Homo sapiens: one gene and its partners. The protein of the gene in region 4 purifies or fractionates together with the protein of the main gene of each other region. This does not show direct contact. Each region holds a gene or a part of one and is shown on either strand. Other genes may lie near its edges.

Region 1 (3,500 bases), on a different chromosome or scaffold from region 4:
AATCTTTAGAGTCAATTCCTAGAAGTGGGACTGTTGGGTCAAAGGGTTTATTGTACTTTTAAATGTATATTTTAATGATTTACATCAGTTTCTTTACTTCGAATAATAATTGGGTAAGCGAATGATCTCTTTAGTTTTAGGATCTCTAAATTTATCAATCCACTATTGTGTGTGTGCAGAGAGGGTTATCATACCAAAATGATCCAATCTATTACAAGATAGAAAGTAGTAAACACCATGAAGGATTAGGACATAGTGTTCAGGATGTCTGGAAGAGAGAGAAGCCCCAGCTACTGAGTCAGGGAGCTCTCTAGAAAAGAAGGAGCCATTTAAGCTTGACTTTAAAGAGTGGGTAGAACATGGAACTATGGAGAAGCTCAGAACGTGTAGTTTAGGCAAAGGCAATAATGATGGCTGAGGCACTGCTGGGATGCTTGGAAAGAGGGTGGGGCGACCAAGTTTAGATGAGAGTGTGTCCTGACGAGAGTGGGTCCTGGATGTTTAGGCTGTATTTTAACCCTGCTTCTTCTACCTTAGTTCAGTGTGGCTCAAAATGATCAGAATGAAGAATTCAGAAAGCTTGAGAGGCTTTCTGAGTTATGGCTTCTGTGCTTGCTTTTGGGATTCGGTGCTCTGCCTGTGGTTCTCCCAGGACAAATATTAGTACCAGGGAGATCTAGTGGAAACCAGGAGTCCAGACATCTATTGTCCAACCCTGACCTTGCTACCAATCCACTCTGACCTTGTTGATGGTCACGTGAACGCAGGAACCATGGCTGGAATATGTTGCTTCTCTATCTGTGACTATTACAGTGCCTACCTTTCACACAGGAGGGGTCCTGCCTCCAGCTTCCTCTGTGGCATCAGACAAGTCACTTTCTCTCCCTGTACTGGGGTTCCTGGTCTCTGCAGTAAAGGAGATACTGTAGATGGTCTCTAAGCCCATAATTGTACTTTCTCAGATTCTGTGAAAATAGGAGAGATGTATGCACTGTACAAATGGACATTTTTTGTTATCCATGTTCTCAGAGTGCCAAGGGGACTCCCCTCTTTATGCTTCTCAAAGACCCTTACATCCTGGTGGCTGCAGGTAAGCTGGCGATGACCTCCCATTGGGCGGGGAGTGTCTGGGCTTCAAGCAGCCACGGCTGCTCACAGAACAGTCTCCCCAGGGTCCATCTGCTTTGCCAACATGGGGGTGGCCATCCTGGAGCCCACACTGCCCATCTGGATGATGCAGACCATGTGCTCCCCCAAGTGGCAGCTGGGTAAGTGACCTCAGCACCCCCGCTCAGGGCCTGGCAGGAGGAGGTGGGTGCCATGAGTCCTTTCGTTCAATGTCACACAGGGACAACATGCTTCCTTTGTAGAATGACCTCCCACGTCCACACCCATGAATCAAGCCCAAGAGGGTGTGTGGTCCCTCAGAGAAGCAGTCTGAGAAAGGGGAGGGTGAGAGAGGATGAAAGGGGCTATGGAGAGGTCACATACCTAGCTGTGTAGTAGGATGATTAATGATTTCCAGTCCAAAGATTCAGGTTTTGGTTTCAGCTCCTTTGATTTTCTGTGAAAACTTGTGCAGATGCCTTAAACCCTCTGAGCATCACTTTTCTCATTGCTAAAATGAGCATCAAAATACTATCTAGTTCAAGAGAAATTGGATGAATAAATGACATATGAGGTGAAAATGCTTTGTACCCTGTACAATATTAATGTGCACCATTACCATCCACATTCTCCTCCCTTCAGCTCCTCATCCTCAAGACTACCCTTTGGTTATCTTTTTTACCTCTAAAAAGGGGTGTATGTAGCACTCACTTAGGAAAAGCTATGGGCCCAGGAGAGAGGGTTCCAGCTTCCTTTGTTCATGCAGCGACTTAGAGAGGAGCTTGGAGAGGAGGATCTAGCCCTTCCCAGGAACCCTGAGGAAAGAGGACAGGGAAGGCTACGTGCAAATTGCTCCATCACTGCAGGGAGGAGAGGCTTACGGGGCCAGAGGGGAAGCTGATAAGAACATGATATAGTTCAGCATGCAATAAAAAGCACTAAATCTAATTTTGGGGGGGCAATTCTAAGCAAGACTCCCAGCTGCACTCCTAGTGCCAAATTGAATTTTTATGGGTTGCAAGTGCTTTTGACCATGACGATTAATTGAGTTAGTCGGTATTCAGTGCAGATAATTCATCGCCTGCCCTAAGGCTCTGACCACTCAGGGTCTCGATACTAGTGAGCAGCTACAACACAGAGCAGCTCCTCCCCAGCAGCCTAGGGACCATTCTCAGTTGCCAGTTACCAATTACTCAGTTACCAGTCACTCAGTTGCCACCATCTTTTACAGCTTTCTCAATGCTATCTGGTCTGTAAAGTCTGACATCAAAGGTTGTCCAACAACTACATCAGAATCACCTAGAGAGCTTGTTAAAACTCTGATTGCTGGGAGACAGTAGGCAATTTAGTCAAAACAAGTTTTCATCCCTAGTAAGTCTGCAGGTGATGCTAATATAGCTGGTCAGTGATCACACCTAGAAAATCGCTGCTGTACATGAAGAGCATCCCTCAAAGGTGTTGGGAGCCAAAGGAGTCCATGCTTTTGAAAGTAATGTGTAGTCTGCCTCTGAGTGCTTGCTATGTGGCCCACCATATACTAGGTAGCATCACCAAGGGGAGGAAATAGCCCAGGTCCACCTGGGTTTGAATGCTGACCACGTCACTTACTGATTGTGACCTCGGATAAGTTATTTAACCTCTTTGACCTCTGATATGGTGTGAATGTGTCCCCCAAAATTTATATGTTGCAAATTGAATCCCCAGTGCAACAGTCTTGAGAAGTGGGACCTTTGAGAGATGATGAGATCATGGGAGCACCCTCATGAATGGATTAAGGCCATTATCATGGGAGTGAGTTTGTCATAATAAAAGGGGAGTTCAGCTCCCTTTACATCTCTCTCATGTGTGCTCTCTCTCCATGTGACCCCCTTTGGCCATGTTATGATCCAGCAACCAGGCACTCCCCAGGTGGCCAAACAGACACTAGAGGCTTGCCTTTGAACTTCTTAACCTCCAGAACCCTGAGCCAAATAAATCTCTTTCATTGATAAATCATGCACTCTGGTATTCTGTTATATTATAGCAGCAGAAAATGGACTAAGACAGAAAATGGGTAATGAGAAACCGGGCTGCTGCTATAACAAATACTTGAAAATATGGAAGCAGCTTTGGAACTGGAAAATTGGTAGAGGCTGCAATAATTTGGAGGAGCAGGCTAGAAAGAGCCTGTATTGCTGTGGTTAAGGCATTAAGGGTGATTCTGGTGAGGGCTCAGAAGAAGAGGAGAGCTATAGAGAAAGTCTGAATCTTTTTAGACATTGGTTAAGAGGTTGTGACCAGAATGTTGATAGAAATATGGACAGTGAAGGTCATTCTGACGAGGTCTCAGATAGAAATGAGGAACAAGGTATTGGACACTAGAGTAAAGGCCATCCTTGTTATACAGTTACAAA
Region 2 (3,500 bases), on a different chromosome or scaffold from region 4:
CAGTAATTTTATGGTTCATGAAGAGCAGGTATCAAAATATCTCAATTTTGTGGCTCCTCAGTAACATTACAGGGGATAAGACAAGTAAAAAAAAGAAACAGAAAGTTATGGGAAAAGACTGGGAAAAAAATAAAAACATCTCTAATTCTGAAAATGCTAAAATTAGTACTTTCATCAATATCTCATACAACATATTAATTCCTCCCTTGTATATTGGAAGTCACTATGTGGGCAATTTTGCTGAAGTATAAAGCATTCCCTCTTTACAGCAAAATTCATTAAGTGCATCCAAAGTAAAAATAATGTTAAAAAAATAGGAAAAGTAAAAGACAGCAATTTTTATATAGGAGGTTTGTGCACTAGTCAATACAGCTTACCTTAAAAATAGTGGAAGATCTTTTTTCTGCTGTTACTTCCATTGGAGTAACATCTTCACTCTTAATCATACTGCTTGGTATGAGTGGAGTCATCAGGGCATTAGGGATAATATTTACCTTATCTAAATTACATCCAGTAGTTTTCATTGCTGCATATACACACACACAAAAAGAAAAGTTTAAAATCACAAAATTTACCAACTATTTCATTCTAAAATTTGTTATTAGCCATGATTTAAATGTCTATTTTTTTGATGCTACAATGGTAGCATGAGATACAAACCTGGTATATTAAGATATATCTTCCCTTTTATGAAGTGCATTGGCTGGGGGACCTCTGGAATGGGCCTGGAACTATAGCTTAAATATTAATAATAAGCTTAAGCAGTTCAATTACCAAGCTATATTCCCCAAGACGGTTCCAAGTGCCTTGAATCATACTACCCAACCTGACCAAGAGTATATTATAGGATACAGCTTAAAAATCTCCAGGAGGATAAAGCTACTCAATTACAAACTACACTCTCCTCTTAGCATTTAGCTATCTGACAATATAGTCTCAGAACTTCTTAAGGACTATGAGATTGTCAGAGCACTTCTTTCTTAAACTAAGTTCAAGCTTCTCATTAGAAAATACCACCCAGTGATTAATAAATTTTGCTTTTCTAAATTAAAAGAAAACTAAATTAATTAGAAAACTTGAATATGACAAGTTGACACATGGACACAATTCTCTTTTAGACTGGACTTTAAACATCTTTTTTTTTTTCCCCAGAAATAAGGGCTATTTTAGGTTTACAAACCAAATTTCCCAAGCAAAATGAAAAATTATTTCCCACCTCCTACTACCTCCATTTTCAGGAGTAGTTAGTTCTAGATTTATACCTAGAGGCAACATATAGCAAGATTCTACCACTTCACTATATCTACCTTTCCCCCTTGATTGCTTTTCTTTCTTCTTTTTTGTCTACTTGAGTCCGCAGTGGCACTCAGTGGTACCTACTGCTATTGCTAATGACAGTCTTCTGAGTTGAGCACATAGCCAAATCCTGATTTAAAAGTTTACTACCACTTGGAAGCTCTATGGAAACAGTCTTCAGAAAGCATAGCTGTTAAATTTCTTAATTTGATATCGAGAAGAAATCTTGGCTATAAAGAAGCTTTTAAAATGGCACATGGTCTATAAGTTGGATCGCTCCCTTCATAAATTTTTGTTGTTGTTGTCAGTCAATATGCTGCTGAAAGGCCAAGTGTGGTGGCTCATGCCTGCAATCCCAGCACTTTGGGAGGCCGAGGCAGGTGGCTCACTTGAGGCCAGCAGTTCGAGACCAGCCTGGCCAACATGGTGAAACTCTGTCTCTACTAAAAATACAAAAATTAGCAGGGCATGGTGGCACATGCCTGTAAATCCCAGCTACTTGGGAGGCTGAGGCACAAGAATTGCTTGAATCCAGGAGGAGGTGGTTGCAATGAGCTGAGATCGCTCTACTGTACTGCAGGCTGGGCAACGGAGCAAGACTGTCTCAAAATCTGCTGAAAGTAAATATTTTCATCTAAAAATATTTGCAATTTTCTTGTCTTACTTCAACTTGCCTCACAGCCATTTGGCTAAAAACCTAATTCCTATGAAAACTGATTATTTTGACAGAGGGGAAAGTGCTCATTTAACTTTTGACATTCCATGTTTTATTATTCTACCTAAGTAGTTTGAGAAATGAATCATTTATTCATGAGTTCTTTGGACCTATTTTCACCTAAATTCTAATACCAATACAATTCCCCTAACAACCAGATTTTTATTTTATTTTATCTTATTTGAGACAGGGTCTCTCTCTGTTGGTGGGAGTGCAGTGGTACAATCAGGCCTCACTGCAACCTCCACCTCCTGGGCTCAGGCAATCCTCCCACCTCAGCCCCATAAGTAGCTGGGACTACAGGCACACACCACCATGCCTGACTAATTTTTAAAATTTTTTTGTAGAGACAAGAGTCTCGTTACTTTGCCTAGGCTGGTCTTGAACTCCTGAGCTCAAGTGATCCTCCCTACTAGGCTGCCCAAAGTGCTGGGATTATAGGCGTGAGCCACCACACTCGGCCTACAACCTAATTTTGACTGAGACAAAACTTCAGATCATGCACAGGGCAGGCATTTAAAAGTAATCTAAGAATATCCCATAGAACATTTTGAAAAACCATTAGTGTTATCTTAAGTTGATCCTGTAATAGTCAACTACTATTCTTGCTTTTGAATTCCATTAGATCATGAGCTCTGTGAAGGCAGATGTTGTTATCACCTGTTGCACAGTAGGTAATCAACAAATGTTTGCTGAATGAATGAAGAAAATAATCTTACTTTAGCTTTATCACTGTCAATTTAGTTTGTTGTGGATTGTTTGGTTAATCCTATAAAAATAAAAATATGGGCCAGGCGCATTGGCTCATGCCTGTAATCCCAGCAATTTGGGAGGCAGAGGTGGGTGGACCACGAGGTCAGGAGTTCGCCAGCCTGACCAACATGGTGAAACCCCGTCTCTACTAAAAATACAAAAAAAGTAAAAATAAAAAAAAGCCAGGTGTGGTAGAGGGCACCTGTTACCTCAGCCTCTGGAACCCAGGAGGCAGAGGTCAGAGGTTGCAGTAAGCCGAGACCACGCCACTGCATTCCAGCCTGGGCAACAAAGCAAGACTCCATCTCAAATAATAATAATAATAAATAAAAATAAAAATATACAGTCTGTATTTTTCTTTTTAAAAATATTCATTCATTCATTCATTCATTTACTCACTCATTCATTCAATTAGAGACAGGGTCTCACTCTGTTACCCAGGCTGGAGTGAGTACCTGCAGCCTCAAACTCCTGGTTTTTTTTTTTTTTTTTTTTTTTTGAGACGGAGTCTCGCTCTGTCGCCCAGGCGGGACTGCGGACTGCAGTGGCGCAATCTCGGCTCACTGCAAGCTCCGCTTCCCGGGTTCACGCCATTCTCCTGCCTCAGCCTCCCGAGTAGCTGGGACTACAGGCGCCCGCCACCGCGCCCGGCTAATTTTTTTTGTATTTTTAGTAGAGACGGGGTTTCACCTTGTTAGCCAGGATGGTCTCGATCTCCTGACCTCATGATCCACCC
Region 3 (3,500 bases), on a different chromosome or scaffold from region 4:
AAACGCCATCAAGCACGTACTGGGTTTACCAAACACTTCCTACGCTTCTGTTCCCACACAGATGAAACATGACAGTCCTTTTTTTTTTTTTCTTGAGACAGAGTTTCACTCTTGTTGCTCAGGCTGGAGTGCAATGGCATGATCTCAGGTCACCACAACCTTCGCCTCTAGGGTTCAAGCGATTCTCCTGCTTCAGCCTCCTGAGTAGCTGGGATCACAGGCATGCACCACCACACCCAGCTAATTTTGTATTTTTAGTAGAGACGGGGTTTCTCCATATTGGTCAGGCTGGTCTCGAACTCCCGACCTCAGGTGATCCGCCTGCCTTGGCTTCCCAAAGTGCTGGGATTTTTTTTTTTTTTTTGAGATGGAGTTTCGCTCTTGTTGCCCAGGCTGGAGTACAATGGTATGATCTTGGCTCATTGCAACCTCCACCCTCCCAGGTTCAAGCAATTCTCCTGCCTCAGCTTCCCAAGTAGCTGGGATAATAGGCACCCACCACCACGCCTGGCTAATTTTTGTATTTTTAGTAGAGATGGGGTTTCACCATGTTGGCCAGGCTGGTCTCGAACTCCTGACCTCACACCTGAGGTGATCTGCCCGCCTTGGCCTCCTAAAGTGCTGGGATTACAGGCATGAGGACCGCGTCCAGGCGACAGTCCTTGTTCTTAAAGGAGATTATAGGCCAGGTGTGGTGGCTTACACCTGTAATCCCAGCACTTTGGGAGGTGGAGGCAGGTGGGTGATCACCTTAGGTCAGGAGTTCGAGACCAGCCTGGCCAACATGGTGAAACCCCATCTCTACTAAAAATACAGAAAATTAGCCAGGTGTGGTGGTGGGTGCCTGTAATCCCAGCTACTTGGGAGGCTGAGGCAGGAGAATCGCTTGAATCCAGGAGGTGGAGGTTGCAGTGAGCCGAGATCACGCCATTGCACTCCAGCCTTGGGGACAGAGTGAGACTCTGTCTCAAAAAAAAAAAAAAAAAAGAAAGAAAAAAAATTAAAGGAGCTTACAGCTGTTGGGGAGAAAACTGATGATAAATTATGAAATAAGCCGAATCATTTCAGAGCTTAAGTCCAGGAAGGGACATCACTGGTGGTATGGGAGTAACCTGTATTAGATACTATGTCAGGGAAGGCTTGAGTGAAAGTCGATAAAGAAAATCAGCCATTATTGTCCAGGTGGAAACGTCCTAGTCCTCCCATTGGCAGCTTTCCTGCTGTTTCTGCCCAAGTAGTGCAGGTGCCTGGCCAGTGGAGGGGAAGGGAGGGAAGAAGAGTCCCTTTATGTTGGCCTTGGTGTGACGGCTGTCACCCTGTGCCCCTCAGGAGCTGGTTTGAGGGCCAAGGGCTGGCCGGGAAGCTACGGGCCATCCAGACGGTGTCCTGCCTCCTGCAGGGCCCATGTGACGCTGGCAACCGGGCCTTGGAGCTGAGCGGTGTCATGGAGAGTGTGATTGCTCTGTGTGCCTCTGAGCAGGAGGAGGAGCAGCTGGTGGCCGTGGAGGCTCTGATCCATGCAGCCGGCAAGGCTAAGCGGGCCTCATTCATCACTGCCAATGGTGTCTCGCTGCTGAAGGACCTATATAAGTGCAGCGAGAAGGACAGCATCCGCATCCGGGCGCTAGTGGTGAGACGGTGGGCCTGGGGTGGGTGGGCAGGCAGCCAGGCAGGGGTCCTGGTCCAGCCGGTGTTGCAGGGTGTGGCCCCAGCACACTCCAGATGAAAATAAGGAATACTGTAATGCCAAAAAAATTAGCTAGGCTTGGTGGTGCATGCCTATAGGTCCAGCTACTTGGGAGGCTGAGGCAGGAGGATCACTTGAGCTCAGGAGGTTGAGGCTGTGGTGAGTCACGCATGTCACTGCACTCCTGCCTGGGCAACACAGCAAGACCCTCTCTAAAATAAATGGATGAATGAACGAGATTCTGGGCTTTCTTGTGGTGAGAGACATCGGCATGGCTCCTCCCTCCATGGGGCTTAAGACTGGGCCTGCAGGGGTCATGCAGTGTTCCTGGGAGCTGGTGGTTTGGGGGTTTGGGGACTACCTGGCCCTCCATGAGCCTGTTGTGGCTGTGCACCCTGTGGAAGCTGGTCTTCCTCCCTGGGGCACTCAGTCCTGGATTTCTCCATCCCATAAGGATTTGGCTGTGGCTGAAGCACCTGTCCTCTCCCCACATGCCTCTCAACTCCACCTGCAGAGGGCTTCTTTGTGCGACATGGAAGGAAACAGAGCCATTCTCAGTGTGGCCTGGGAAGGGGTGGGGCCCACGACTGTCCAGCGGCCAGCGCATCAGTGTCTGCAGATGCTGTGTCATGCGGCCACCCCAGTAGCTGATTTTCTTGCCACATGCTCTAGGTGGTGGTCTGGAGGGAGAGGGTGCTGATTTGTCTGTGTAGCTTCCAGGGGGCCATGGCAGAGTGCCAGGGAGGGAGTCCAAGCCAGGTGTGGAGGAGCTCAGCTCCTGCCTCCTTCCCCAGAGGCCAACTGGTCTTGCCCTCTTCCTCCAGGGACTCTGTAAGCTCGGTTCGGCTGGAGGGACTGACTTCAGCATGAAGCAGTTTGCTGAAGGCTCCACTCTCAAACTGGCTAAGCAGTGTCGAAAGTGAGTCATCTGGCCTTGCTGTGGTTCCCCACCTGTGGGGTAGATCTCAAGACACAGGGGTCTGGGTGGGGGTTGGGGCCTCCTCCGTCCTGCTCTCTGGCTCAGGCAGGGGCTGCAGTCTGGATCCTGGTACGTGAACTGCTTCTGTACATTGAGGGGATGCCCAAACCCTTGGTTTTTCCCCCTTGGCCTTGGTGTACCCCTCCGTACCCCCAATCCTGAGGGTCGTCCACTATCCTGCGTGTCCCCAGGTGGCTGTGCAATGACCAGATCGACGCAGGCACTCGGCGCTGGGCAGTGGAGGGCCTGGCTTACCTGACCTTTGATGCCGACGTGAAGGAAGAGTTTGTGGAGGATGCGGCTGCTCTGAAAGCTCTGTTCCAGCTCAGCAGGGTAGCTCTGTGGTTCCTGCCGTCAGCCTGGGGACACTGTCTAGGATTAGACCTTACCAGGCTTTCTCGGCAGGGCTTGGCCAATGGGGTCTTTTGACCCCAGGGAAGAGGGCTGGTGGCTGAGTGGCTGCTCTGTGTAGTGTGGGCATGTTGGCCAGCACCAGTGGTGTTAGCAAGGACGTTCTTCTTGGAGGAGCTGGGGAGGTCAAGTTTGTAAGCTCCCAAAGTCTGGGGCCTGGGAGTTTCCCGAATTCATCCTGTACCCAAGGGTCCCAGCTGAGGGTGGAATTGGGGGCCTGGGCCTGGGCAGCATTTATCTGAGTACTGCTCTGCCCCGGGATGCCCATGTGAATTCCTCTGTGTCCTGGCAGTTGGAGGAGAGGTCAGTGCTCTTTGCGGTGGCCTCAGCGCTGGTGAACTGCACCAACAGCTATGACTACGAGGAGCCCGACCCCAAGATGGTGGAGCTGGCCAAGTATGCCAAGCAGCATGTGCCCGAGCA
Region 4 (3,500 bases):
ATATGAATGACTATAAAAAGCCTCATATAATATGTTCAGATCTAACGAATTTAGCACCAAATTTATGAAAAAAATTTCCAGTATTCAGAGTCTCTGGGATATAAAGGACTGTGGACCTAGAGTTTCTACTTTCCTTGCCCTTTATTCCTGTTTCTTCGCATGTCATTCTCCTCCAAGGATATAAACAAGTAGCTAAATTGAAACCCTAAAATTATATTATAGGCTATACCTCAGTGTGTTAAGCAGTCGCCTTGGCTGAGTGGCAAGTTCATCAGTATATTTCTCTGGATTTAAGAGAAAACTAGCCTGGAGCTGTTCAACCGAAATGATTAAGGACTGTAAACTGCATATCAATTCATAACTTGCCAAAGAATCTTCTTTGCAATTTCCCTGTCAAGAAAGAAACACACAAACCAATAATTTTATGAACAAATTAAGTACCTTCCCCCTTTGTCTTTGTCTCACTTAAGAATACTAGATTTTCTAAGTTGCATAATAGCACTAATTTTAAGGGATGTACAAATAAGCCTTATTTTTTATTTTTTTATTTTGAGACAGGGTCTCTGTCGCCCAGGCTGGAGTGCAGTGGCTTGATCGCGGCTCACTGGAGCCTCAACCTCCTGGGCTCAAGCAATCCTCCACCTCAGCCTCCCAATTAGCTGGAACTACAGGCTCACACCATGACGCCCTACTAGTTTTTGTATTTTTAGTAAAGACAGGGTCTTGCCATGTTACCCAGGCTGGTCTCAAACTCTTGCGCTCAAGCAATCCACCACCCACCTTGACCTCCCAAACTGCTGGGATTACAGGCATGAGCCACCACGTCTGGTCTTTTTTGTAATTTTAAGAGGAATTATGAATTACTATTTATGTGAATTACAATGGTTTTTTAATTATGGAAGTTAAAGATTTCTTTAAATACACTGTATTTAAATTTTAACTCAATTTGAAAACACAATGGGTAAATAAGTTGTACATGGGTATAACATATTGTGATTATAGTATACAGTAATATATAGTATACAAGTAACAAAAGTTTGATACACAGATTACAGGAGCAAACATTGTAAAAGGGAATTATCTAGTTAGCCACCTTGAAAGAATGAAAAATAATTGCCTGACAATAGCTCGCTAACAGAGAAATAATCTTTGTCATCCACCCCCCCAGTCCTCTTCATTTCCAGGCAAGTAAATTTCCATTAATTTACTTTTGCTTTTTACATTATTTTCTGTTCTTTATTTTTCTTACCTTGTCTTTTTGATTGGCTTCATCCTTTAGAGCTTCTTTCTTCCTTGAAATAATATTAAATAAGTGCTTTACTCCAGATTTAAAACCGGGACAAAAATATAATACCTATAAAAAGTGAGATTGTCTTAAGTGTTTACTGAACAAACAATACACGTAAAATCATTAAAACAACATCATGCTTTCTATAGAGCACTTTTAACATGTATTACCCTAAAATTCTGAGATTAAGTTTTGTGTCAAAATTTGTTCTCCACTTCATCAGTAGTAGCCCAGTGTCTTCCCTCATTAGCACAAAGCACTGCACCTGGGCAGATATTGCTAAGACTTTAAGGTTACAAGGACACACAACACAGCGCCAACGGACACACAACACAATGCCAACGTTACTTCCAAGGGATAAGACATATATCACACTGTAGCACCAGGAATCAGAGAAAGAAATTAAAGGTTTGACCTTCCACTTAAGGTCTACTCAATTTTGCTATCCCACCTTTATTTAGTCTATCATTTTCTCTTACCCCAAAGGAAGTTTAATAACATGTAACTTATTATTTTAGCCTATTCTGGTTTATTAACAATCAAAGGCAAAGACAGTATGGACATTAAAGTCCTCCAATAACTCAAAAACATTAAATGCTACATCAATCTTTGCCTACTAAAGCTTTATGATATAGCAAAATTGTCAATTTACCTGAAGTATACTATTAAGATAGCAAGTATTGCCGAGATTATTCAGTCCCACAAATGGTAACAAGTTTTCTCTCTTCTCACAGTTTATAGGTGAAGACTGTGCTGCAGGAACAACTTGATCACTATGAAATATAGAAGGGAGAACGATAAGTAGTTATCTTAAAGAAACAAGGTGAAAATATTACTTCTGTAGATTTAGTCTTTTCCCAAAAGTTGTATAATCTGAAAAGTATGTGAATCTTGTTCAGATGACATTTTAAGAAATACAGGCTCAAAAATTGCTATATGCCCAGAATAAAAGTTTTAAAAGCATTTAAAAACATTATTACACATAACAAGCCACAGAACAATTCCCTTAAAAGGATGTTAATCCTATTTTACAGAGTAGAAAATTGAGGAACTGAGAGACTATGATTTGTTTCATCTACTTTGACATTTTAATCAAATAGTTTAACTGAACAGAAACCTGGGAATAAACTAACCATGACAATATTTGGGAGAGGCTGCACTAAGTAAGATTCTATTAATAAGAATTCAGAGGAAAGAAAGTCTGTGAAGAGAATTATATATGACTTCCTGCTGGTAAAAAAAAAAAAAATATGTAGCTATCCCTCACTTAAAAATAAAATGTTCAGAATGTGGGTGTGGGGGCATTGACATGTAATTCCAGCTACTTGGGAGGACTGCTCGAGCCCAGGAATTCAAGACCAGCCTGGGCAACACAAGGAGACCCCATCTCAAAACACAAATGCTTTAAGTTTACTATTCTTTTACTTCTTTAACAACAACAACAAAAAAACCACTAGGTCCTTCCAATATTTTCATTTATTTTACGATTGCTAGCTATTATTACTCTAGCACCTCAAAGTATTCAGAAGTATGAATGCTGATAAACAAAAGCTTCACTCTCACAAATCTCCTCAACTGGTTATTGATAGCTATTAGGAAATTAACACATGGGACCAAATCCACCTTAGTCACCCAGCAGAGTGCCTATATGTTAAACAGGGAGTAGTACAGACTCCAGCTAGAGCTGCTGGTGGTGGAATAAAGTATTCCACTTTGTTCTGATTTATTTTCTGTAGCTAAATAATTTATTTGCATCAAAAGCATTACTTAAAGTTTATTTTTATAATTTGCAATCATATGCCTCCAACAGGTATGACTAGTTACATGACTAGAGTTTAAAATGTCTTATAACTGTCAAGTCTTCTGAACCAAACAAATATATATATATATATATATAAAACCTTTTACCCCTACACAGATGTTTTGCACTACAAATAATCAAATTTAAACTCAGAAAGACAATTTTAGTCAACAAATATTTCTCCAAGTTAGTCTAAATGGCTGAGCACAGTGTTAACATGAGTTAAACATTATCGATGTGATTCCTACGGGGAACCACCAGTTTTGCTGTTCCTACTATAAACTGCTAGATTTGACTAAGAAGTACACTGAAGCGTACTTTTTTGTGCCGCTACAGACTATCAAGTCAGACTGGAGTTGTCAACCAAGTTCACTGCTGCTTTACTGTAGAATTTTTAAAGTACAGAAATGT
Region 5 (3,500 bases), on a different chromosome or scaffold from region 4:
TAGGTTCTCTTCAGAGTCTTCTGCATTGACTGTCATAATTACTGCCTTTGATATGTTTGTAGAGACTTCATGCTACCCATAACTTGATGGAATTGTTGATAGCCAGGCACCCAGGGATACCACCTACCTTGCGTGATGGCCGACTTGAGGAAGAGGTAATTATTTTTTTCATTCTGTCTATAAAAGTATATTTTCTTCAAACTTTATGCTCCATATAGTTGATATATCCTAGGACATACAACATACAAATAAATGTAATCATGTTTTCCTGTTACTTTGATGTTTCGAATTTTGTTGTGATTTTGGGTAGCAGAGAATGGCAGCAGTACGTATTATTTGGCTTCTCTGCTGATCTACCTGCAGTTATGTGATAAATGCTTGTTGTAGATATGGCTGTTGGTAGCCAACAGAATGGGATGTAAATAAATGAGTTTTAAAAAAGAAACTTTGATCTCATGGCAGATCTACAAAAGAGGTAGCTTAGTAAATATACAAACTTTTGCACTTTCTCCACATTTCTGTGTATTTTTTAAGGGGGTAAATAAAGTCAAATTTTTGGTGGTAGTTCTCCCAAAGAAGTTTCCTCTACAAAAAGTGTCGCCTCTTTTTGAAAAGAATGACATCGAAAAGAGTGATATTATAAATTATTTTACTATAAATTGTTAATAGCTTATTATGCAGATTCTTCCAGGGATTTTTGCTGTTGTTAAACATTAAAGAGCTAAAATCAAAAGAGTAGGTATGTTTGAAATGTATTGAACCTGTAAGTGGAGGCTTTATTTGAGTCAACAGGATAAAAAATGAGATTATATAAATAAGCACAGCCTTTTTGCACTGGTTGTTTTGGGGGCGGAGGTGCCCTGGTAAACTATTTTAATTAACAAAAATTTTATCTATTCATGAGTAGAGACTGATGTTTTGATGTATGTAGACACTAGAATAGCTAAATCAAACTAAATCAATTACCTCTTTATTTTTATTGCATGCATGTGTGTGTGTGTGTGTGTGTGTGTGTGTAGTGAGAACATTTAAAATCTACTTTCTTAGGGCTTCAGCATATGAATTTTGGGGAAACAAAATTCAGTTCCTAACACCTGTGTTACTGTGTATTCTCAAGGATTATTTTTAAACTGCAGTAACTAAGGAATTTTAATAACTAAATTAGCCAAATTTTAGAAAGGTGTCTTTGCTTTGCCTATCATTTGAAATATTACTGTTCTTTTTTTCCCCTCTTTGCTTATTCTAACTAAAAAAAAAAATTAAATAAGAAATTGGCAAACAAATATTCGGTGTTTCTGAAATTTTGTTACTTGGACAAGTAAATTTTGTTAACTTCCATATATAAGGAATTTTTAGCGTGACTTTTATGTTCTCTACAGTATACTTGGACTTTTATGTTTAAATGCAGTTAAGTAGCTTTAAATGTATAAAATGACCCATTCTTCTTGAAACATCATACTGAATTATATTCTAGATTGGGAGTGAAAGTTTATATTCTCTGTTTCAACACAGGCCAAACAGCTGCGAGAGCACTACATGAGCAAGTGTAATACAGAAGTTGCTGAAGCCCAGCAAGCTTTATATCCTGTGCAGCAGACCATCCATGAGCTTCAAAGAAAGGTATGCCAAAATGCAGTGTTTCTTACTTGTATTTGCCTCCAGATATCATTTTGAGTTTTGGTTTTTTGGTGGGGAGAAACTTGAATTTCTTATACATTTTGAAATCCTTAGCACCTAGCACATTGCCTGACCCACAATACAAGTTTATTTTACTGTTAGCAATGATTTATTGGTTGAGTGAACAGATGCATAAATAAGTCAACTATTTTGAGTTCTCTTTCTTTTGAACTCATGGGTTTTCTCTTACCATGAGTATATAACAGTTGTCTTTTGAAGAAAGTAAAGACTTCTATAACCTCCTTTTTATCTTGTTTCTGAGATGTTTTAAAATGTTAATACATTAGAACCACAGGTATTTTTCCTGCAGAATATATACCACTTGTCATTTCTAAAATTTCAGTTTTATGAAATCAGCAGCAAAATCTAAAGAGGTTACACAAATACACTTTTATTTTCAGTTTTTAAATCAGGTGTTGCAAATTTTTGTCTTTCTAATTCATTCATTATTTAGTATTCTGGGATATAATTTTGTGAGTTATTGTGGATTATTCATTAAGTAGAATCTGGTTCAGTTAGTTAAAGATTAGAATGAAGGCTTTCTTTCTTATGCTGATAAAGAGACCTGTGACCTTTTCACACATATAGATTGAGTATTGAATTTTCATTTGGCGTAAACAGTTTTTTTAGTTACAGCTTTGTTATATAAATGCATTCAATAAATTCCCATTTATCCAGAGTAGTTAGGAAATAGGGGTTTCTCTTTAATTATATTTTCAAAAGAGGAAGCGAGCATTGTACATGGAATATGTATACTCGTCTCCCCTCTGTGATAGTCCCTTTGAGAATAGCATTTATTACTTTCTTTGAATTTTGGCATCACCCTGCCCAGTGATGGAAGCTTAGTGAGTACTAAAAAAAATGTATTAATTGATTAACTGCTACCTTTTTTACAGATTCATTCTAATTCTCCTTGGTGGCTAAATGTGATCCACAGAGCAATAGAATTTACTATTGATGAGGAGCTAGTTCAGCGAGTGCGAAATGAAATAACCAGCAACTACAAGCAACAAACTGGCAAGCTTTCTATGTCAGAGAAGTAAGAAAACAGGAAGAAAAAGTATCTACTCATAATTTTAAAAGCAAAGAAATCCTTGTATTTTCTAGTTTCTAATTTCTCATTATTACCGGCTTTTTTTCTCCATTCATAAACCTATACAGACACATTCATACTTCTTTTTTGCAGCCTTTTTTATTCACAGTTTATCAAAATGGTTATAGGTACTATAATTGGGTTTAACTCCTAACTGCGACCTACCTTTGTTACTTTAGTTACTTTAATATTTTACACTTCATAATGTGAGCACATTAGTAACTATTGAAATTATACAGGAAAAGTGCTTGGCAAAGTGCCTCGTATATAGTGCATAATTACAGATTTAATTAAGTATATATACATATATATATATATTCAACCAAGGAATATAACTCTTAGCCATTTTTCTTCTTTCTTCCCAATATTCTGCTTTTATGTTTCATCCTGCAGGCACCTCCTCATATAGAGCAAGGATGTCAGGAAGGCTATCTGTAGTCAGGCTTAAAACGGAAGAATGTGGCAGTCGTACACTTTCAAAGATATCTGAGACAGACATACATTTTTCATGCTCTTTTTCAGTTCCTGAGCACAGGACTATCAAATTTTTTTGGTATCTTTTACGGTAGACAGCCCAATATTATACTTTGAATACATTCTGAAGGAAAACTCACTCAAATGTTGCTGTTAAAAAAAAAAAAAACAGCAAACAGTTTCTTTAACACTTTGTTTGGCAACCATTCTCTGAATTTGAGGAAATTGACCTATTATTCTTTTCTTTGTATTGTGT
Region 6 (3,500 bases), on a different chromosome or scaffold from region 4:
GTAGATGAGCACCTTGTCTGGAGAGTGAATGCAGGAACAGGCGGGCTTGAGGGAAGAGGCCGGGCCTTGGAGCTCTCTGCTCTGGCTGCCCAGTCCCAAACCAGCTGAGGGATTCAGTTCAGAGCCAGGGAAGCCAAGGGCAGGCAGAGGGGCAAGAGGGGAGCCAGGCAGAAAGGAGAGGCTGTGGGAATGGCAGGGCAGAGCAGCTGACCATCATCCTGGTGCTCCACCCAGGAGCAGGTAATGCCCCCTTCTGACGATTCACTGAAGCGCAGTAGAAAGGTGCCAGACATGGTCTTCTTCAGCAGCCGGCGCTCCTGGCTCCGACTCACAAAGCCCATGATGCGTCTGGAGCACAGAGAGCAGCTGTGAGACACCGCCCAACACCCTGCCCCACCAGGCCCCTGCCTCCCTGCTCCCCTTGTATGGAGAAACAGCCCAGGTTTGGAATCCAGGCTTTGGACCAAGCCCTGCCACTTAGCTTTTTTTTATCTTTTACAAGTCACTTCACTTTGCTGACAATAGCCACCTTCCGAGGGTTTGAAGTACGAAGATTCAGTGAGATCACACAGATGAACAGCACTTTTTTTTTTTTCTGGGAGACAGGGTGTCATTCTGTCACCCAGGCTGGAGAATAGTGGCATGATCACAGCTCACTGCCACCTCGACCTCCCGGGCTCAAGCAATCTTCCCACCTCTCAGCCTCCAGAGTAGCTGGGACCACAGGTGCACACCACCATGCCTGGCTAACTTTTGTATTTTTCGTAGAGACGGGGTTTCACCACGTGGCCCAGGGTAGTTTTGAACTCCTGGGCTCAAGTGATCTGTACTCCTCAGCCTCCCAAAATGCTAGGATTACAGGCATGAGCAACCACGCCTGGCCACAAATAGCACTTTTTTTTGGTTTTGTTTTGAGACAGAGTCTTGCTCTGTCACCCAGGCTGGAGTGCAATGGCACGATCTTGGCTCACTGTAACCTTCTCTCCTGGGTTCAAGCGATTCTCCTGCCTCAGCCTCCTGAGTAGCTGGGATTACAGGCGCCCACCACCACACCCGGCTAATTTTTGTATTTTTAATAGAGATGGGGTTTCGCCATGTTGGCCAGGCTGGTCTCAAACTCCTGACCTCAGGTGATCCACCCACCTCGGCCTCCCAAAATGCTGGGATTACAGGCGTGAGCCATCGTGCCTGGTCATGAATAGCACTTTTAAAAGCCAAATGCTACACAAGTTGGTAGGCAGTGTGGTGGAAAGAGCATGGGCTTGGAGTCACATAGGCCTGGATTTGAATATCAACTGTGTCCCTTGGGTAAGTTCTTTAACTTCTCTGAAACTCAGTTTCCTCACATGAAATGAAGCTGGCAAAACCCACCACTCAGCATGGTTGTAAGGATGAGATGAGAGAATTAATGAAGAGCACCCATCAAGCTCTGGAATGTAGGAGATGCTTCACAAACACTGTTTATGGCTATTATTGGTTGTTTTTTTTTTTTTTTTTTTGAGACGGAGTCTTGCTCGTCACCCAGGCTGGAGGGCAGTGACGCAATCTCGGCTCACTGCAAGCTCCATCTCCCAGGTTCACGCCATTTTCCTGCCTCAGCCTCCTGAGTAGCTGGGACTACAGGTGTCTGCCACCACGCCCGGCTAATTTTTTGTATTTTTAGTAGAGACGGGGTTTCACCGTGTTAGCCAGGATGGTCTCGATCTCCTGACCTCATGATCCGCCCGCCTCGGCCTCCCAAAGTGCTGGGATTACAGGTGTGAGCCACCACACCCGGCCTTATTATTGTTAACAAATGTGAGGAGACGTGGCCTGCACCTGTCTTTGCTCTCTCTCCCTGCTTGCCACGTGAGGGTGCAGAGACTCCACTCTCAAGCCCGGAAAGCACAAGCCCATGAGGGAAGGGTGACCAAGGCCTTACCCATCATTCCAGAGATCCTTCAGGTGGTCATGTACCAACTCCAGAATTTTGTCCAGCCATGTCCAGAATGGTAACTTGCCAGGAGGGCTCTCTCGCTGGAGGAGGAATGGAAAGGTAGCAAAAGCTGAGGAGTTGCCTCTGGTGTAGGGAAGGAGGGACGTGGGAAGGCCAGTATTTGGAATGTGGGCTAGATCCAGCAGCTCCACAGGATTCAGGGAGTTACCTTAGTGAAGTCAGCCCAGGACAATAATGGATCCTCAGTCCTACAGTTCTGCCCTGTGGGACAGATAGCCACAGACAGATGATGAGGGAAGCCAGGGGTCCTGGGATAGATAGGACAGAGGGACAGAAAAGACTAAGGCTGGGGAAAGGCTGAGAGAAAAGGAAATCTGTACCGAACAGCTTGTTTCTCAGCATGCTCAGCTGGTCTGAGTTGAGGCCTCGGCCAACATAGGAGGAGAACTGCCAACTGAGAGCAGGGCCCAGCAAGCTCCAGGGGGCCTTGGGGGGGTTGGAGAAGAACTGCTGGTTCTGCAGGGGTGGGAGCAGTGTAGGCTGGCTCAGAAGCAACCTATCACACCAAGCTTCCACACCCCTCCTCTCGCGCCTTGACCTGTCGGCCCCACTCCCCTACCTGAAGGTTTGGGCTGAGCAAATTGAACCAGAGAACTGAAGCCCAGGCAATTGAGAGCTGGTTCATGTTGGAAATAATCACCACAGGGAGGGTGTCCGTCTGGGGAGAAGACAGGAGTCACAGAGAGGGATGTGATGTTTCTAGCTGCAGGTATTTGTTAGAGGAAAGGAGTGCTAACCCACCCCAAGAGGCTTCTGTTTATCCCCTTCTTATGCCTTCTTCCAAAGCTGCTTTCTCTCTCCTTGCCCTCCATTTTCACTCACTTTCAGCTCCTGCTTCAGACCCTGGTAGGTATATTTGACCGTGAAGCTGATGATGTGCAGTTCCTCTGTCACACCTAGTGGCCCCTGGGACAGCCAAAGACATAGTCATCAGAAGGCTCTTTGGCAAGCTCCCCCTGCCTCGAGTCCTCTGTCCAGATCTCACCTTATTGCTGCCCTTTCCTGAACCACCTGAACGTTGCTCCACCAGAGTCTGTGAATTGAAGGGAAGGAGAGAAAATGCCAGAGTGGGCACCCTAGTGTCCCTGGAACCCCTGTTTGGCTTCAAGACCTCTCAAGCCCTGGGAACTTCCCCCAACCCCTGTTCCTTTGGACTAAAAGCAGGCCAGCTATGGTGGCTCATGCCTGTGATCCCAGCACTTTGGGAGGCTGAGGCGGGTGGATCACCTGAGGTCAGGAGTTCGAGACCAGCCCGACCAATATGGTGAAACCCTATCTCTACTAAAAATACAAAAATTAGCCGGGCATGGTGGTGTGTGCCTATAGTCTCAGCTACTCAGGAGGCTGAGACAGAAGAATTGCTTGAACCCGGGAGGCGGAGGTTGCTGTGAGCCAAGATGGCACCACTGCACTCCAGCCTGGGGGACAGAGTGAGACTCCGTCTCAAAAAAATAAAAATAGTAATAAAAGCATAGGTCACAAACTATTCTTACCAGGTAACCAA
Region 7 (3,500 bases), on a different chromosome or scaffold from region 4:
GTAACTCGGTATTTATAATTTAAGTAAGAAAATGTGGAATTCCAAAGTTGGTTCACATCACCAGAACATTTCATGCAGATCAAAGAACTTGATGACATTTCCTTAGGCTGCTTAAATTGTAGCCAAAGCTTTTGTATGTATGTTTGACAGTCATTTGGCTAAGGAGTACTTCACTTGCTCTTGAAAATAGTTACTGTAAACTCATCTTTGACATAGTTGGAAATCCTGGCGCTTAAAGTTTGGTCACATGACATAGCTTTTGCCAGTGTTGTAGTATGTACTGGGGTTTCTAGTATCTTCAATTTCATTCTGGAAAGAGCCTGAGATATCTGAGCTGTCTGTTCAGGAACATGTCAGGACTGTTAAATGTGGCATATAGAAATTGCCAAGTAGATTATATTTTTTAAAGCTGTTGGAGCATCTTTCAGCCTCAAGTATTGCTATTTCATATTTAATATTCTTCCTCGTCTGTTTCAGTATGACTTTTCTACCAAGTGGAAAAGATAAGGTAGGCTTGCTGAGTTAGAAGCCCTGGGTTCCAATCTCTACTTGGGACCTTGCCCCTGAGGCGCAAGGGTCAGGCTATGTGGGACCCCCTCCCTTTTGCATTGTTGCATGGTTTTAACATCATTAACTTGGAACAAAAACACATTATAGAGTATGGTTTTTAAGAAATAATTTTGTTTGGGGAAGAAAATTCAAATTGACAAATGGCAGTTAAAATTTGGATTCTTTTGCAGTTATGGTACTTGCTATTCATGCAAATCAGTATCCACCCAGGGTGCTCCTGTTTGACATTGCCAGTGGATTTGATAAGATCTTATGAACCATGCCATCTCTTCTAGTTTCCTCTGAGTTGACTGGAAACAAAACTTGCCATCTGGACTGACAGATTGTAGAGGAAAAGTATTTAATCCCATTTTCCATTAAAAAAAAGTTAAGCAGAAAATATTTTATTTACCTAGATGTTTTTTTAGTATCATCTGCAGAAGTGATTTCTAAGTAGCTGGATGATTATTTTTTTGGTGCTGAGTTTGGGGAGCAGCGCACAAAATTGGCCTCCTCTGCACTGTTAGCAGAAATTGTGAATTTGGAATCATTGTGGGTTTTTATTGTTTAGGTAGGGGAGAGTGTGATTGGAGGGGGCAGGGATTGGAGCCATGTAAGGGCTGTTAGTAAACAAGACCCGGAGGCAGCCCTGGCCGAGGATGGTACAGAATGCCGCTTAGAGAACAAGAAAGTTTTGTGTGTCGTGGCAGGGGGAGGGCAGGGAGTTGGAGACCACACGTCCCCAGAATCTCAGGGCTCTGGGAGCACTCAGGCTGCATTGGCCAGAACTATCCCTGCCCTGGTGACTGGGAGTTGCAGGCTGGAAGGCAGCTCCTCATTCTTCATGATTTAAGCATGAGTTATCTCATACTCACTTTACATTTTATTTGAGAAATTGCTATTTAGAATGCTAAGACTGTGTGTGGTTTAATGCCAGCTTTGCATTTACAGCTTGAGGCTGAAATCGATTGCCCTTCATAGTAAGGAGATCCTCTGGCCATGTGGATACATTTTTATCAGATTTTGGTCAGAATGTCTAAGAGCAAGGGTCACCGGAGGTTTGTTCCTTAGAGAGTGCCAGGAATGGTGGTGAAGTAGTCATCGTGTCGTGCTTTGCTGTGGTGTGACATTTACAGGTTTCAAGGCACTTTTACCTATGGCCTCTACAGGGAGGGTGGGGAGTTGTTCCCATTTTACAGATGAGGAAATAGTCAAAGAGCACATAAGTGAATTGTCCAGATCAGGTAGCAAGTTGATGATAGAGTTGGAACCAGAAATTAATTCCAGAAACTCATTGGTTACAGGACCCACCATGCATGGTTGCCAGATGAGCTCTTGCCCTTCCGGGAGCTCACAGTTTAGTAAGAATGGACAGAGAGTACTGGGCACGTGTCAGCACAGCGATATGAACAAAATACCAAGGGCTAGCTGCCGCAGGAATTCTTTAGTATGCATTTTAAAGTTTTTTAAAATGTTAAGTTCACTGGGGGAGTTCCAAGAAATGCTTTTAGAAAGTGATGTTTGATGTGGGTCTTAAAGGGTACATAGTCATTAGAGGAGGGTAAGGAAGGCCTTCAAAGCTGGAGGAACAACTAGGCATGTGAAAGAACATCCAGTAACAGCTTGGCCACATCACAGTGTGGGACTTGGAGTGTCAGAGTTCGAAGCTGGAAAGATAAATTGGAACCAGCTTGTCTTATAAAAGCCTTTTCATGTCACGTGAAGCAATTTGGAACTGACACTGGAAGATGTGGGGGAACCTTTGGCCTTTTAATGAAGGGAGTGACAGGATCAAATGTGTTTTTTTAGAACTCTTGTCAGCACTTGTGGAAGGTGGATTGGAATGAAGAAAGACAGAATGAAGGTAGCAAGACCAGTGAGGAGGCTCTAGTAACTGTCCAGGTGAGAGCTGAGGGCTTGAACTAGAGTTGCGGCCATTGTTTCATTCATTCAGGACCTTGACTACCTACCACATGCCCAGCACTGGGTCTGCAGCAGTGGGCAAAACCTGCCCTCCTGTGACCCCTCTCAGGAGGGAAGAGAGGTATAATAGCACCACCCCCGAAACACTGGTGACCACAGATGGTGACACTTTGTGATGTAAGAGGCAAGAGAGCAGGCCCAAGAAAGGGAGAGAATCACAGAGGTCTACTTTATTTATTTATTTATTTATTTATTTATTTATTTATTTATTTATTTATGAGACAGAGTCTTACTCTGTCACCCAGGCTGGAGTGCAGTGGCGCAATCTTGGCTCACTGCAACCTTCACCTCCCAGGTTCAAGCTATTCTTGTGCCTCACCCACCCAAGTACCTGGGATTATAGGCCACCTGACTAATTTTTGTATTTTTAGTAGAGACGGGATTTCACCATGTTGGCCAGGCTAGTCTGGAACTCCTGGCTTCAAGTGATCCACCCACCTCAGCTTCCCAAAGTGCTGGAATTACAGGCGTGAGCCACCACGCCTGGCCAACACAGAGGTCTACTTTAAACTGGGAGGCAGAGGACATCTCTCGGACGAAGTGCTATGTTTTAAGCTGTGCCTCATGTGAGAAGAAGGCCAACCAGGTAAGGAACTGGAGATGGAGCTTTCCTGCAAAAGGAATAGCACATGAGGGCCCTTGAGCCCAAGGAAACTGAAAGAAGGACGGTTTACCTGGGGAAGGTGGCATGAAGTAAGGGCATGAGATTGGAGGGCCACATCACCTACGGCCTGATCCAGATTTGTTTCTTAGCCTGAAGTACGGGATTCCTTAGAAGGGAGCAGGTGCACAAGGCAGGCAGATTGGTGTTTTTGAAAGGTACCCTGGCTGCTTTTTGGAGACTGAATTGGAAAGGTGTATTAATAAATCAGGTTTCTGGGTGTCTCTTGCTGTGTTGGGTGAGACTGGGAAAGGAGCAGTTGTCAGGGAATGGAGGGGAAGATCAGAGGTTCTGGTCTGTACTTGCT

The links.
Region 1: the proteins of USP1 (region 4) and SLC18A1 purify together in Homo sapiens (co-immunoprecipitation; one large-scale study listed by IntAct). This does not show direct contact.
Region 2: the proteins of USP1 (region 4) and NFAT5 purify together in Homo sapiens (affinity purification with western blotting; one study listed by BioGRID). This does not show direct contact.
Region 3: the proteins of USP1 (region 4) and UNC45A fractionate together in Homo sapiens (co-fractionation; one large-scale study listed by BioGRID). This does not show direct contact.
Region 5: the proteins of USP1 (region 4) and SHPRH purify together in Homo sapiens (affinity purification with western blotting; one study listed by BioGRID). This does not show direct contact.
Region 6: the proteins of USP1 (region 4) and STAT2 purify together in Homo sapiens (affinity purification with mass spectrometry; 2 studies listed by BioGRID and IntAct, with this or other methods). This does not show direct contact.
Region 7: the proteins of USP1 (region 4) and WDR20 purify together in Homo sapiens (affinity purification with mass spectrometry, with the first as the bait; one large-scale study listed by BioGRID). This does not show direct contact.

Annotation. Positions count from the first base shown.
Region 1 is NC_000008.11:20,162,637-20,166,136, reverse strand, and holds part of SLC18A1 (chromaffin granule amine transporter), read left to right. Parts: intron 1-1,029; coding exon 1,030-1,090; intron 1,091-1,172; coding exon 1,173-1,268; intron 1,269-3,500.
Region 2 is NC_000016.10:69,687,966-69,691,465, reverse strand, and holds part of NFAT5 (nuclear factor of activated T-cells 5), read right to left. Parts: intron 527-3,500; coding exon 378-526; intron 1-377. UniProt on the Homo sapiens protein: Transcription factor involved, among others, in the transcriptional regulation of osmoprotective and inflammatory genes. Binds the DNA consensus sequence 5'-[ACT][AG]TGGAAA[CAT]A[TA][ATC][CA][ATG][GT][GAC][CG][CT]-3'.
Region 3 is NC_000015.10:90,945,285-90,948,784, forward strand, and holds part of UNC45A (protein unc-45 homolog A), read left to right. Parts: intron 1-1,329; coding exon 1,330-1,630; intron 1,631-2,511; coding exon 2,512-2,606; intron 2,607-2,857; coding exon 2,858-2,999; intron 3,000-3,369; coding exon 3,370-3,500.
Region 4 is NC_000001.11:62,440,049-62,443,548, reverse strand, and holds part of USP1 (ubiquitin carboxyl-terminal hydrolase 1), read right to left. Parts: intron 2,062-3,500; coding exon 1,941-2,061; intron 1,355-1,940; coding exon 1,250-1,354; intron 391-1,249; coding exon 230-390; intron 1-229. UniProt on the Homo sapiens protein: Negative regulator of DNA damage repair which specifically deubiquitinates monoubiquitinated FANCD2. Also involved in PCNA-mediated translesion synthesis (TLS) by deubiquitinating monoubiquitinated PCNA.
Region 5 is NC_000006.12:145,922,859-145,926,358, reverse strand, and holds part of SHPRH (E3 ubiquitin-protein ligase SHPRH), read left to right. Parts: intron 1-62; coding exon 63-155; intron 156-1,512; coding exon 1,513-1,620; intron 1,621-2,573; coding exon 2,574-2,716; intron 2,717-3,500. UniProt on the Homo sapiens protein: E3 ubiquitin-protein ligase involved in DNA repair.
Region 6 is NC_000012.12:56,346,608-56,350,107, forward strand, and holds part of STAT2 (signal transducer and activator of transcription 2), read right to left. Parts: coding exon 3,490-3,500; intron 3,030-3,489; coding exon 2,982-3,029; intron 2,903-2,981; coding exon 2,819-2,902; coding exon of another isoform or gene 2,765-2,818; exon of another isoform or gene 2,738-2,764; intron 2,655-2,737; coding exon 2,556-2,654; intron 2,477-2,555; coding exon of another isoform or gene 2,453-2,476; coding exon 2,317-2,452; intron 2,245-2,316; coding exon of another isoform or gene 2,198-2,244; coding exon 2,145-2,197; intron 2,017-2,144; coding exon 1,922-2,016; intron 596-1,921; coding exon of another isoform or gene 565-595; exon of another isoform or gene 378-564; intron 349-377; coding exon 212-348; intron 18-211; coding exon 1-17. UniProt on the Homo sapiens protein: Signal transducer and activator of transcription that mediates signaling by type I interferons (IFN-alpha and IFN-beta).
Region 7 is NC_000014.9:102,195,397-102,198,896, forward strand, and holds part of WDR20 (WD repeat-containing protein 20), read left to right. Parts: exon of another isoform or gene 1-477; coding exon of another isoform or gene 478-508; intron 509-2,358; coding exon of another isoform or gene 2,359-2,451; intron 2,452-3,500. UniProt on the Homo sapiens protein: Regulator of deubiquitinating complexes. Activates deubiquitinating activity of complexes containing USP12. Anchors at the base of the ubiquitin-contacting loop of USP12 and remotely modulates the catalytic center of the enzyme.